Regions from separate parts of the Homo sapiens genome. Here region 1 is linked to region 2. The links come from fine-mapping of genetic effects on gene expression. A gene starts in region 2. The other region holds a variant in brackets. All regions are shown on one strand. Distances are between the middles of the regions. Region 1 overlaps MROH6 (maestro heat like repeat family member 6). Region 2 holds the start of EEF1D (eukaryotic translation elongation factor 1 delta).

What was found. PIP is the estimated chance that this variant, and not a neighbour inherited with it, causes the effect.
Region 1: its variant is fine-mapped to the expression of EEF1D in whole blood (TOPMed, PIP above 0.99).

What each region holds. Positions count from the first base shown.
Region 1 is chr8:143,565,986-143,571,338 of GRCh38, reverse strand. MROH6 (maestro heat like repeat family member 6) reads left to right here. Exons shown (of 14, transcript NM_001100878.2): 4 at 345-462; 5 at 682-866; 6 at 959-1,096; 7 at 1,274-1,388; 8 at 1,499-1,642; 9 at 1,725-1,898; 10 at 2,620-2,787; 11 at 3,078-3,197; 12 at 3,451-3,553; 13 at 3,663-3,728; 14 at 3,874-5,147. The coding sequence ends at 4,100. Among named protein-coding and RNA genes, the nearest start is that of MROH6, 4.1 kb to the left of the region's middle. RefSeq lists an enhancer at 1-58. The variant A/G (reference allele first, on the strand shown) is at 2,959.
Region 2 is chr8:143,594,407-143,599,749 of GRCh38, reverse strand. It overlaps EEF1D (eukaryotic translation elongation factor 1 delta), which reads left to right and starts at 2,335. Exons shown (of 10, transcript NM_001130053.5): 1 at 2,335-2,402. It overlaps TIGD5 (tigger transposable element derived 5), which reads right to left and starts at 1,919. Exons shown (of 1, transcript NM_032862.5): 1 at 1-1,919. The coding sequence starts at 1,846. RefSeq lists an enhancer at 3,088-3,687.

The DNA.
Region 1 (5,353 bases), 28 kb after region 2:
CTGGCTCTTTGGTTAATTGGCCCCAGAAGTTATCTTTGGTTTTATTCTCTGTGGCAATTTTTTTCTTTTTAATAATGCCAGGTTTGTTTCACTGTCGCTGACCCAACGGGACTCCCAGTGGGTCCCCACCCTGCAGCTCAGCTTGAGATAGGCTATGTTGTGGTCTGCACAATTAACCCTTCATTTGTTTCTCTGAGATTTGGGGATGGGGGGAGATGGGAGGGGTTTCCTGCCCCTCCCCTGCTGGAGTCCTACTGGCTGCCTCCACCCTGGCTGGGGACTCCCTACATTCCCTGGACACCCACCCATCTCTTGTCTCACACCAGCCCCCTCCAAACCCTCAGGGTAGCAGCCGAGCTCTGGCGCAGCCTAAGCCGTAACCAGCGTGTAAATGGGCAGGTGCTGGTGCAACTGCTGTGGGCGCTGAAGGGTGCTTCGGGGCCGGAGCCCCAGGCACTGGCGGTAGGTGGCTCCAGCCATTACCAGGGGGTGGGGGCGGGGGTGGGGGGTGGCGAGGAGCGGGGAGGATGGGCATAGGGAGTTTGCACCTAGGTAACTGCTCCTGGAATGTCCCATGCGTGTCTGAGGCTGTCCCCATCCTGTTGACAGCACGCCTGTCCCTCTGCTGCCCAGTGCAGCTCCAGGCGTGCCCCAGGCCTGAGTGGGCCACTTGCTCCACAGGCCACACGTGCTCTTGGGGAGATGCTGGCTGTTTCGGGCTGCGTGGGAGCCACGAGGGGCTTCTACCCACATCTGCTGCTTGCGCTGGTCACACAGCTGCACAAGCTGGCCCGCAGCCCGTGCTCCCCCGACATGCCCAAGATTTGGGTTCTGTCCCACCGAGGGCCACCACATAGCCATGCCAGGTGAGAGGCAACACCAGGTTACGTGGGGCGGGCCAGCATGCTGTCACCCTCTCAGCTCCCACTGCCCACCTGCTCACTGTCCCCACCACCAGCTGTGCTGTGGAGGCCTTGAAGGCGCTGCTCACCGGGGATGGAGGCCGCATGGTGGTCACGTGCATGGAGCAGGCAGGAGGCTGGAGGAGGCTGGTGGGAGCCCACACCCACCTGGAGGGCGTCCTGCTGCTGGCCAGGTGAGGAGGGTGAGGAGGGGCCCCAGGGTGTCACACCAGGAAGAGAGTCGTTGCTGGCCAGGTGCTGGGCAGGGGGACAGGGAAAAGGCAGGGGCATGAGGGTGGTGTTGGGATGGGGTCTTCTCGAGGAGAAAGGCCGCCAAACGGAGCGAGAGCTCCCATTTCCACCCACCCCAGTGCTATGGTGGCACATGCCGACCACCACCTGCGAGGCCTCTTCGCAGACTTGCTCCCTCGGCTTCGCAGCGCGGACGACCCGCAGCGTCTCACGGCTATGGCCTTCTTCACAGGGGTGAGCCTGCTTCCCGGATGGGTGGTGAAGGGTGACCCTGGACTTGATCCCTGAATCGCAGCGGCCTGCACGGGGACCGCGGGCGTGCTGACCCCATGTGCCTCGCCTAGCTGTTGCAGAGCCGGCCCACCGCACGGCTCCTGCGGGAGGAGGTCATCCTGGAGCGACTCCTCACCTGGCAGGGAGACCCCGAACCCACTGTGCGCTGGTTGGGCCTGCTGGGCCTGGGCCACCTCGCGCTGAATCGCAGGAAGGTGTGAGAGAAGGGGAGGGGTGGAGAGGGGCTTGGCCCGGTCGCGGCGAGGTCTGCAAGAGGCTGACCCCGAGTCCCAGCAGGTGCGGCACGTGAGCACGCTGCTGCCGGCGCTCCTGGGCGCACTGGGCGAAGGCGACGCGCGGCTCGTGGGTGCAGCGCTGGGCGCCCTGAGGAGGCTCCTGCTGCGGCCCCGGGCGCCTGTGCGGCTCCTGAGCGCGGAGCTGGGACCGCGCCTCCCTCCGCTACTGGACGACGTGAGCAAACGCCCCGCCTCCGGGTCCCGCCCCTGCCGCTGTCACCGCCCCCGCCCTTCCAGTCTCTCCCTCCCAGGCCCCGCCCCCGTCTCTCCCGCCCAGGCCCCGCCCTCTCAGGCCCCGCCCCGCCCTTCCAGTCTCTCCCTCCCAGGCCCCGCCCCCAGTCTCCCTCCCAGGCCCCGCCCCGCCCCTCCTGTTTCTCCCTCTCATGCCCCGCCCCGCCCCTACAGTCTCTCCCTCCCAGGCCCCGCCTCCCAGGCCCCGCCCGCCCCTCTAGTTTCTCCTTCCCATGCCCCGCCCCCCAGTCTGTCAGTCTGTCCCTCCCAGGCCCTGACCTCCCAGGCTCCGCCCCGCCCCTCCAGTTTCTCCCTCCCAGGCCCCGTCCCCCCAGTGTCTCCGTCCCAGATTTCTTCCCTCCTGACCGCCCCCGCCCCTCCCGCCTGCTGTCGCCCAGCTCCGCCCCTCCAGGGCCGTGTCCCGCCAAGCTCCTCCCCGCTCGACTTTTCCTTCCGGACCCCATCCCTTCAAGCCCCACCCCCTGCAGGGGCTCTCCAGGCTTCCCAACCAGGTCCAGCTCCAGGCCCTGTTCCCTGTCCCCAGATCACACCGAGTCAGCAGCCTTCCCTAGACCCGCCGCTTCCTCGCTCCGCGCTGGCCGCCCCCTCCCACCCTTGCAGCCCCTCTCTGTCTCCGCCTGCCCTGACTGCGCCCTCCCACGCAGACACGGGACTCAATCCGCGCCTCGGCCGTCGGGCTCCTTGGGACTCTGGTGCGCCGGGGCCGGGGCGGGCTCCGGCTGGGGCTCCGCGGCCCCCTGCGGAAGCTGGTGCTGCAGAGTCTCGTGCCGCTGCTGCTGCGCCTGCATGACCCCAGCAGGGACGCTGCTGAGGTCAGCAGCCCCCGACACCATCCCACCCCTATGCCATCCAACACTCACCACTCCCACCGTGCCTCCCCTCCGACAATTACAGGTCAGGGACTCACCCATCCCAAGGACCTCAGTGGCAGGTGTGACGGGCGGCCAGGTTACTACTGCTCTTCCCTTGAGCAGAATCAATCC[A/G]GTCTCCTGCCCTGGGCTCTTCTGCCCCTCACCCGATGCCCTTGCTCCCCCTCTTCCCACCCCACCTTTTGCCTTTCTACTTCCTGGACCCCTGACCCGGCTCACTTCCCCTATCCCAGAGCTCAGAGTGGACCCTGGCCCGCTGTGACCACGCCTTTTGCTGGGGCCTGCTGGAGGAGTTGGTCACCGTGGCCCACTATGACAGCCCCGAGGCCCTGAGCCACCTCTGCTGCCGCCTGGTCAGTAGGGGAAGCAAGGTGACCGCAAGGGGGTATGATCAGCAGCCCACTTGTTCCAGGGTTCACCGGGGCCCCCAACCGTTTCTACTGCAGCCAAACCAGATAGGCTACTGGTGGGGCAAGTCCAAGGTCTCCGACCATGCCACCTGCCCTGGGGGCTCCCCTGGAACCCCGGCCCCTGGATTCAGCTCTGCAGCCTCCTCCGCACTCAGGATCAGCCCTCCTGTCCTGCCACTAGCCCTTTTGTCCCCAGGTTCAGCGATACCCAGGCCACGTGCCCAACTTCCTGAGCCAGACCCAGGGCTACCTGCGGAGTCCACAGGACCCCCTGCGCCGGGCAGCCGCCGTGCTTATAGGTGAGGCCGCCCGGGGTCACACTGCCCCTGGCACCGGGGCTTTGGGAGCTGGGCCAGCCTCCCCCTGGGGGGCTGTGGGGCCTGCACTCATGCATCTGCTGTGGTCCAGGCTTCCTTGTCCACCACGCCAGCCCCGGCTGTGTCAACCAGGACCTGCTGGACTCCCTGTTCCAGGGTGAGGCCCCACCTTGCCAGGGGATGGTGTCCTGGAGACGTGGCTGGTGCTAGGGCGGAGTGGACGGGAGCGGTGGGTGGAGGGCCAGGGGCCCGGGCACTCGGCCCTCCTGGGCTCCCCAGCCTGAGCCGCGATCTCCTCGCAGACCTAGGGCGACTGCAGAGCGACCCCAAGCCGGCTGTGGCCGCGGCAGCGCACGTGTCCGCTCAGCAGGTGGCGATGCTGGCCCGTGCCCGGGGCTGCCCCCGCGGGCCCCGCCTTCTCCGCATCGCCCCGCGCCCCGCCCGGCCCCCACCAGTCTTCGCCGACAGCCCCTTCCAGCGCCGGAGCGTCGCGGGCCGCTGGGGCTGCTCCGGACCCCGCCGAGCCTGAGGCTCGGGGCTGGGGCCCGAGGGCCAGGGTCCGACTCGGGCACCCCACGCGCATAGCAGCCTGTCCCCGCCCTGACGGAGGGGCTCCCTGGGCCTGGTGCTGGACGCCAATGCCCTCCCCCACCCCCCACCCCCGTGACCCCTCTTCAGGCACCCACCACCCTGATGGTGACAGAGGGGGACAGCCAGCACCCATCTGTCCCCGTCAGGGCTCTTGTTCTCACAGCCCCCTGGAGCATGCCCCATGCCCCAACCTTGGGCCTGGCTCCTGGCCCAGATGGCACCTGGCCTCTTGAGTCTGCTGGGGGACCCCAAAGTTGGTGGTCCCATAGCCTGCCCTCCTGGGTCTCCACCTCATGCCTGGACAGGACGCTGTGGCCTGTCCGGGCCTTGGCCAGCCCTGCAGCTGCACCCCCGATCCTCATCCCTCACCCCATTCCCTGCCAGCATCCTAAGGCTCCTGGCGGGCATCCTCTCTGCTCAAAATTATTGACCTGTCTCCCGGCCACACCTGCTGTGCCCTCTCAGCCAGGCCATCATCACCCCCTGTTCATTATGTCAGGCCTCATGGGAGCCTGGCCTTCTCCAGAAGCTGGCCCCGGCGTCCTCCCAAGCTGGACCACGTAGGCCCCAGATCACACCTGGGGGTCCAGATGTAGGGGTCCTGTGTGCACGCCCAATCAGACCGAGCACTTGTGACACTACCCCAACACCTCTCCCAGGGCTGAATGAGGAACGCGCCACTGGACACATGAGGAAGAGGCTGCTCTGGGAGCTACTGATGCTGTGACCTCACCTCTCTGGCTTTGGGCGGCAGGTCCCTGCACCTAGGATGCCTGCCTGGAAATGTCCTTGCATTCGTGGCCTCCTTCACAGCCTCCTCCTCAGAGAAGCCTCTGCGAGTGCACAGGGAGTGTGTGCAGCCTTGTGAAGGGCTGGGACCACTTGCCCAGACTGGGGCCCCTCAGGCACAGGCGTGGGGTCCTACTGACCTGTCTCCCCAGCTCCCACACAGAAAGCATCTAAAATAAACACACGTGGATGGAAAGCGTTGGGCATCTGTTTTGAGTGTGGTTATGGGAGCTGACCCTGGTCCAAGATCTGGCTCAGGCTGGGGTAATAGGCCATAGTCCCTGATATGGCCCCAGGTAGAGTCAGTTTGGCAGCAGGGTTAAAGGTCAGGCAGGCTCCAGGCACAGGCTATGGCCAGGTCAGGTTGGGTTAACCCTAAGACAGAGAAGCTGCGCTCTGGTC
Region 2 (5,343 bases):
CCAGCCTCAGTGGCCCCACCTCTCTGGGGTCCTGGTTCTCCAGCCACCGCAGAGCTGTTTCTAGCCCCCGCACGGCCTCCCCGGCAGTCGGCACTGAGGTCCCTCCATAGTCGGTGGCCTCCTCCTCGTCCTCTCCGCCCCCCATGGCAGAGGGCAGACTGGCTGGGGCCGGAGGCGCTGCAGGGGGCAGGGCTGGGCCCACCTCCTCCCTGCAGCCCTCGGGCGGACCCCCATCATCGTCCAGGTGCAGCCACTCCGCAACCTCCTCCGGAGCCAGGCACTTGTAGGCCAGAGCCGCCAGGTGGGTGAGGTCGCTGAGCACCCTGCTGTGCTCGGCGGCTTCCTCGGCCTGGGCCGGCTGCCCAGCACTGTCCTCGCCGGGCCGGGGCTCGAAGGCAGCCCGCAGGCCCAGCAGCCAGCAGCGCTCAATGCTGCCCGCCTGCACCAGGTCCCAGGAGAGGCCAGCCAGGTAGAGCATGTCCTTGAGCATGAAGCTGCGCATGAAGTCCAGCGGGGAGCCGCTGGCGCAGGACACAGCCAGTCGCAGCAGCTCGCGCTTGTACAGCTGTTTGAAGGCGGCCACCACGCCCTGCTCCAGCGGTGCGGGGATATGTGCCCGGCTGCTGCCTTTGGACAGGAACAGCACCCGCACAGCGCCATCCGGTGTCTGCAGCTCCTCCGGGGGACCGAGGGGCTCCGGCCTGCACCGCACGGGGGCATCCTCGCTGTCCAGGGCGGGCATACTGGCAGCTGGGCTTGGGCAGGGCGGGTGGGCCACCAGCAGCACGGCCTTCTGCTGCAGGCAGCTTCGGCGCAGGTAGCGTTTGACGCCTGGGACAAATTCCTCAAAGAACCAGCCCCGCAGCAGCGGGCGGCTGAGCCAGGCGTCGGGGCTGTAGCGGTAGGAGGCCGGGAACTTGTCCTGGTTGTGGTGGCGCAGGCTGGGCGGGTCCGGCAGCCGCCCGATGACCAGCGGCTTCAGCTTGTGGCTGCCGGTCAGGTTTGCGGCCAGCAGCACCGTTACGCGGTCGCCCCGCCAGCGCCGGCCACAGCCCCCCGCCCCGGGGTCCCCTGCGCCCGGGGGCGCAGCCTGCTCCGGAAGCAGCTTCCAGTAGAGGCCGGTGACGCTGGCGCTGTAAATCTGCTCGTCCCCGTAGCCGCCCTCGGCCGGGGGCGGCGGGGCCGGGGCGCGGTCGGGCAGGGGGCCGGCGCCGGAGGGCAGCGCGGGCTCCTCCTTGACGGGCGGGCCGGGCGCGGGGCTCGGGGCTGGGGGCCCGGCCTCGCCGTAGAAGCGCTGGCTGGAGATGCCGTGGCGCTTCTGCCAGCGCCAGAACCAGCCGTGGCTGGCCTTGAAGGTGCACTCGGGCCCGTAGATCTGGCGCGCGAAGGCCTCGGCCTGCGCCTGGATGAGCGGGCCAGACAGCGGCACCCCGTGCTGGCGCAGCGCCAGGAACCAGGCGTACACGGCGCGGTCGATCTCCTCCTCGTTGGCCAGCCGCATCTTCTTGCGCTGAGTGCCCACCTCACCGCCCAGCTGCTCCAGGAACCAGCGCAGCTTGGGCTCGTCCTTGAGCCAGCCGCGCAGCGTCCCGCCCGGCACGCCGAAGTCGCGGCACACACTGGCCTGCCGCTCGCCGCCCTTGACGCGCTCGATGGCCTGCAGCTTGTCCTTGATGGAGTAGGCCTTGCGGAAGGCCATCTTCACGGCCACGCGGGGCCGCGGCCCGGGCGCGGGGGGCGGCGGCCGTGCAGCGGGGACGGGGGCTGGGGCGGGCGCGGGGGGCCCGGGCAGGGGACGGCGGCCGCGGCGCGGTACCGGGCCGGCCGGGGGGCCCGCGGGGTACATGGCTGCGGCGGGGGGGACCCGGGCCGCGCGGGTCGCGGGAGCCACACGCCCAGCCGCTCGGGGCGGGGCACTCGGGGGCGGGGCCGCACGGGTCCCTCCCCTTTGTCCCGCAGCTTGGCGGGCGCACGCGCGCTGACCTAGCCCGGCCCGGCCCCGCCCCGCGCCTGCGCGCTGGCCGCCTCGTGCGTCACTCGGCGCTTGCCGGCTGCCGGACCCGCCCCCACCGGCGACACCACTGGCCGCGAAGCGCAGGGGGGGCGCGCGCGCTGCCGCCCGTTCCCAGCACTTGTGCAGACTCCTCCGGGGAAGAGCGGCCTCCGCGGTCATCTCCAACGGAATTCTGCCTTTGAAGTGTCGGGGCACGGCGCGTCGAGGGTCCTGGCGGCCAGGCGGGGCGTGTGCAAGGGTCGCGTCCCCCCCCCGGGCCCCCGGCCCGTGGCTCTTGGTAGAGCCCAGTGCTTCATTTCCCGTGCGCGGCCCGGGCGGCCCTCCCTTTCATCAGTCTTCCCGCGTCCGCCGATTCCTCCTCCTTGGTCGCCGCGTCCTTGGCTGGCGTGTGAGTACCGCGGCCCCCGCCGGAAGGAGTCGGGCGCGACAGAGACGCCCGAGGGGCCGGGAGGGCGGGCGGCCCGGGCTGCGCCAGAAGCTCGCGCCGTTAGGGACTGAGGCACAAGTGCGCCAGCGCGGGCTTAGGGGCCGTGGGCCAAGTGCGGCACTTGGGGCGAGCGCAGAGAGGCGGGGCGACGGAGGCCACGTGGCCGGCTTGGAGGGCGTCCGCGGGACGGGGGCGCCGGGAGCACTGTCTCACGGCGCATCCCGGTCGTGGAAGCCCCTCGGCCAGGCTGCTGGGGCCTAAGGCCTGTGTTTGCTGCCGTCTCCGTGGGAGACCAGACATCTGCCCCAGCTGTTTCTCTGGCCTGCAGACCTTCGTACACCACGTCTTTGTCAAGCACCAGTTACTGCACGCATCAGCTGAGCACGGAGGGGATAGGCACGGACGCAACACTTTTGGAACTTAGACGCTAGTGAGCACGGAAAGGAATAAGCCTGTACTGTGACTGGGTCAAAATTTCTGTCTCTTGATTTGGATAGGGTGGTCGGGCAGTCTCTGAAGGGGGCGGGGATGCTGTTGCTAAGAAGTAGTACTTTCAGAGGCTTTAAGTGGAAGGAAGAAGGCAAAGGGGGCGGAGTGGGTTGGGGACCTGATGAGACGTCAGGATTGGTTTCCAGAATGAAGGACCGCCTGGCAGCAGAAGAACTGTGTAGCTAAACTTGGGGTTGTCCCTGCCCGACAGGGCGGGGTGCTTCTTAAGTTGACACTGCCTGCGGCTCACCTCCCAGGGAGGCAGGCCAGGCCATCTCACCTGAGCAGCCTCCTTCTACAGCTCCGCCCACCCCGTCATCTGGACCCCATGAGCCTTAAGCAGCTGGCTCGCAGGCAGTTGGTTACTTCCGGAGCCCGTGTGTGCCCAGCCCCGTTCTGGGGGTGGGGGATGCAGCTGAGGGGCTGGGCAGGTGTGGAAGGAGCCCCCGAGCGTCCTCTGAGGAAGTAGACGCTCACCTTCGCCTTCTCACCACATGCCTCAGGCCCAGCCAGGCTCCTAGACCTGCCTCTGTAGAGGCTTTCTGGGCGCAGTGCCAATCCTGTGAGACAGCAGCATCTCCCCTGGGCTGCTGCAGGGTTCACACGCAGTCAGTGCTGGCAGAGTGAGCGCCCAGCCGACAGAGCCCCCGCTGCCTCCCGCCTCCTCTGGAGGACTAGGCCCTCTGGGCTTTGCTCCCGGGTTGCTGGGTGAGGCTGCAAGGTTTAGCACAGGTGGGCACACGTGCTTGATGATGGACAAAGAGTACCTGGGCTGTGCCGTGCACTGGCGTCAGCCTTCTGGGGGCTGAGGACAGGAAATGTGGCATTGAGGATTTGTGGGTCATCATCCTGTGCCAGTGTGTTAAGGTGACATCAGCGTGTTGGAAGCTGGTGGCAGTGAGTTATGCTAAGTGCTGGTGTAGGAGCCTGCCACAGGTCTCCAGCTCTCCCACCTCGCTGACAGCCAAGGGTGCCGTGTGAGGTGTGGCGTGGGTATTGTCTGGGGTTCCAGAAAGCCTGTGCCGTGCTGGAGTCACCCAGGAGGCACAGGGGCTGCGCCGGGCAGGCAGGTCGGCCAGAGCCCCTCAAGCAGGGCTGGCCATGGAGCTGGCCTGCAGTGGCATTTAAGAAAAGACGTGGTTGGGGCGGGGCTTGGCCTGGGGCAGGGTGGGTTGGGTAGCTACAGTGAGTGCTCTGAGATATGCAGGACAGGCTGGCGTTTCCCAGTGGGGCTGGAATATCCAGGGGTCAGACAGGAAAGTGGCTGAGTGGGAATGTGGAACTGTGGAGTTTTTTCTCTTAAAAAGACCAAAGGCGGCTGGGCGTGGTGGCTCATGCTGGTGATCCCAGCACTTTGGGAGGCCGAGGCAGGCAGATCATGAGGTCAGGATATCGAGACCATCCTGGCCAACATGGTGAAACCCCGTCTCTACTAAAAATACGAAAATTAGGCTGGGCGCATGGCTCATGTCTGTAATCCCAGCACTGTGGGAGGCCAAGGCAGGCAGATCACCTGAGGTCAGGAGTTCGAGACCAGCCTGGCAAACATGGTGAAACCCCATCTCTACTAAAAATATGAAAAAATAGCCAGGTGTGGTGGCACACGCCTGTAATCCCAGCTACTTGGGAGGCTGAGGTAGGAGAATTGCTTGGACCCGGGAGGTGGAAGTTGCAGTGAGCTGAGATCGTACCACTGCACTCCAGCCTGGTGACAGAGTGAGGCTCCGTCTCAAAAAAAACCCAAAAATTAGCTGGCCGTGGTTGCGCATGCCTGTAGTCCCAGCTACTTGGGAGGCTGAGGCAGGAGAATCGCTTGAACCGGGGAGTTGGAGGTTGCAGTGAGCCAAGATCGCGCCACTGCACTCCAGCCTGGGTGACAGAGTGAGACTCCGTCTCAAAAAAAGACCGAAGGCCTCACTCCACGCAGGAAGACATTGATCTGTCCTGTGGCTGCTCTGCCGTGCGGTGGTTTTGCCTAAAGACCCGCTTCCTCAGGGGCTCCAGCCTCTTTTAAGGGCTAGTCGTCGCGCCCTTTGGGCACTGAAGGTACTGAAAGTTCTATCAGGCAGTGCCAGTCCACAGACTCAGGCCAGCCAGGTGGGCCGGAGAGGGGTGCTGCTGGGAGGGGTGGGCGTGCACAGGCTGAGCCGGTGGCTGACCCCGTCCCCTGCCCACCTCCCTGACTTCTCCCTGTGGAGGGTGGACAATCTGGGAGCCTGTCTGTGTGTGCGACTGTGATGGGGTGGCGTGGAGGGCAGGGCCTGGGAGCCAGCTCCTCCCAGAAAGCTTCCGTTTGCCCAGATGTGTGGAGACCTCCAGGCCGTGCAGCACCTTGGTGGCCACAGCTCTCCAGGATGTCCTCACCTTCCTCAGGGCCCTGCCCTCCTGACCTGGAGTGTTCTGGGTAGGAGTC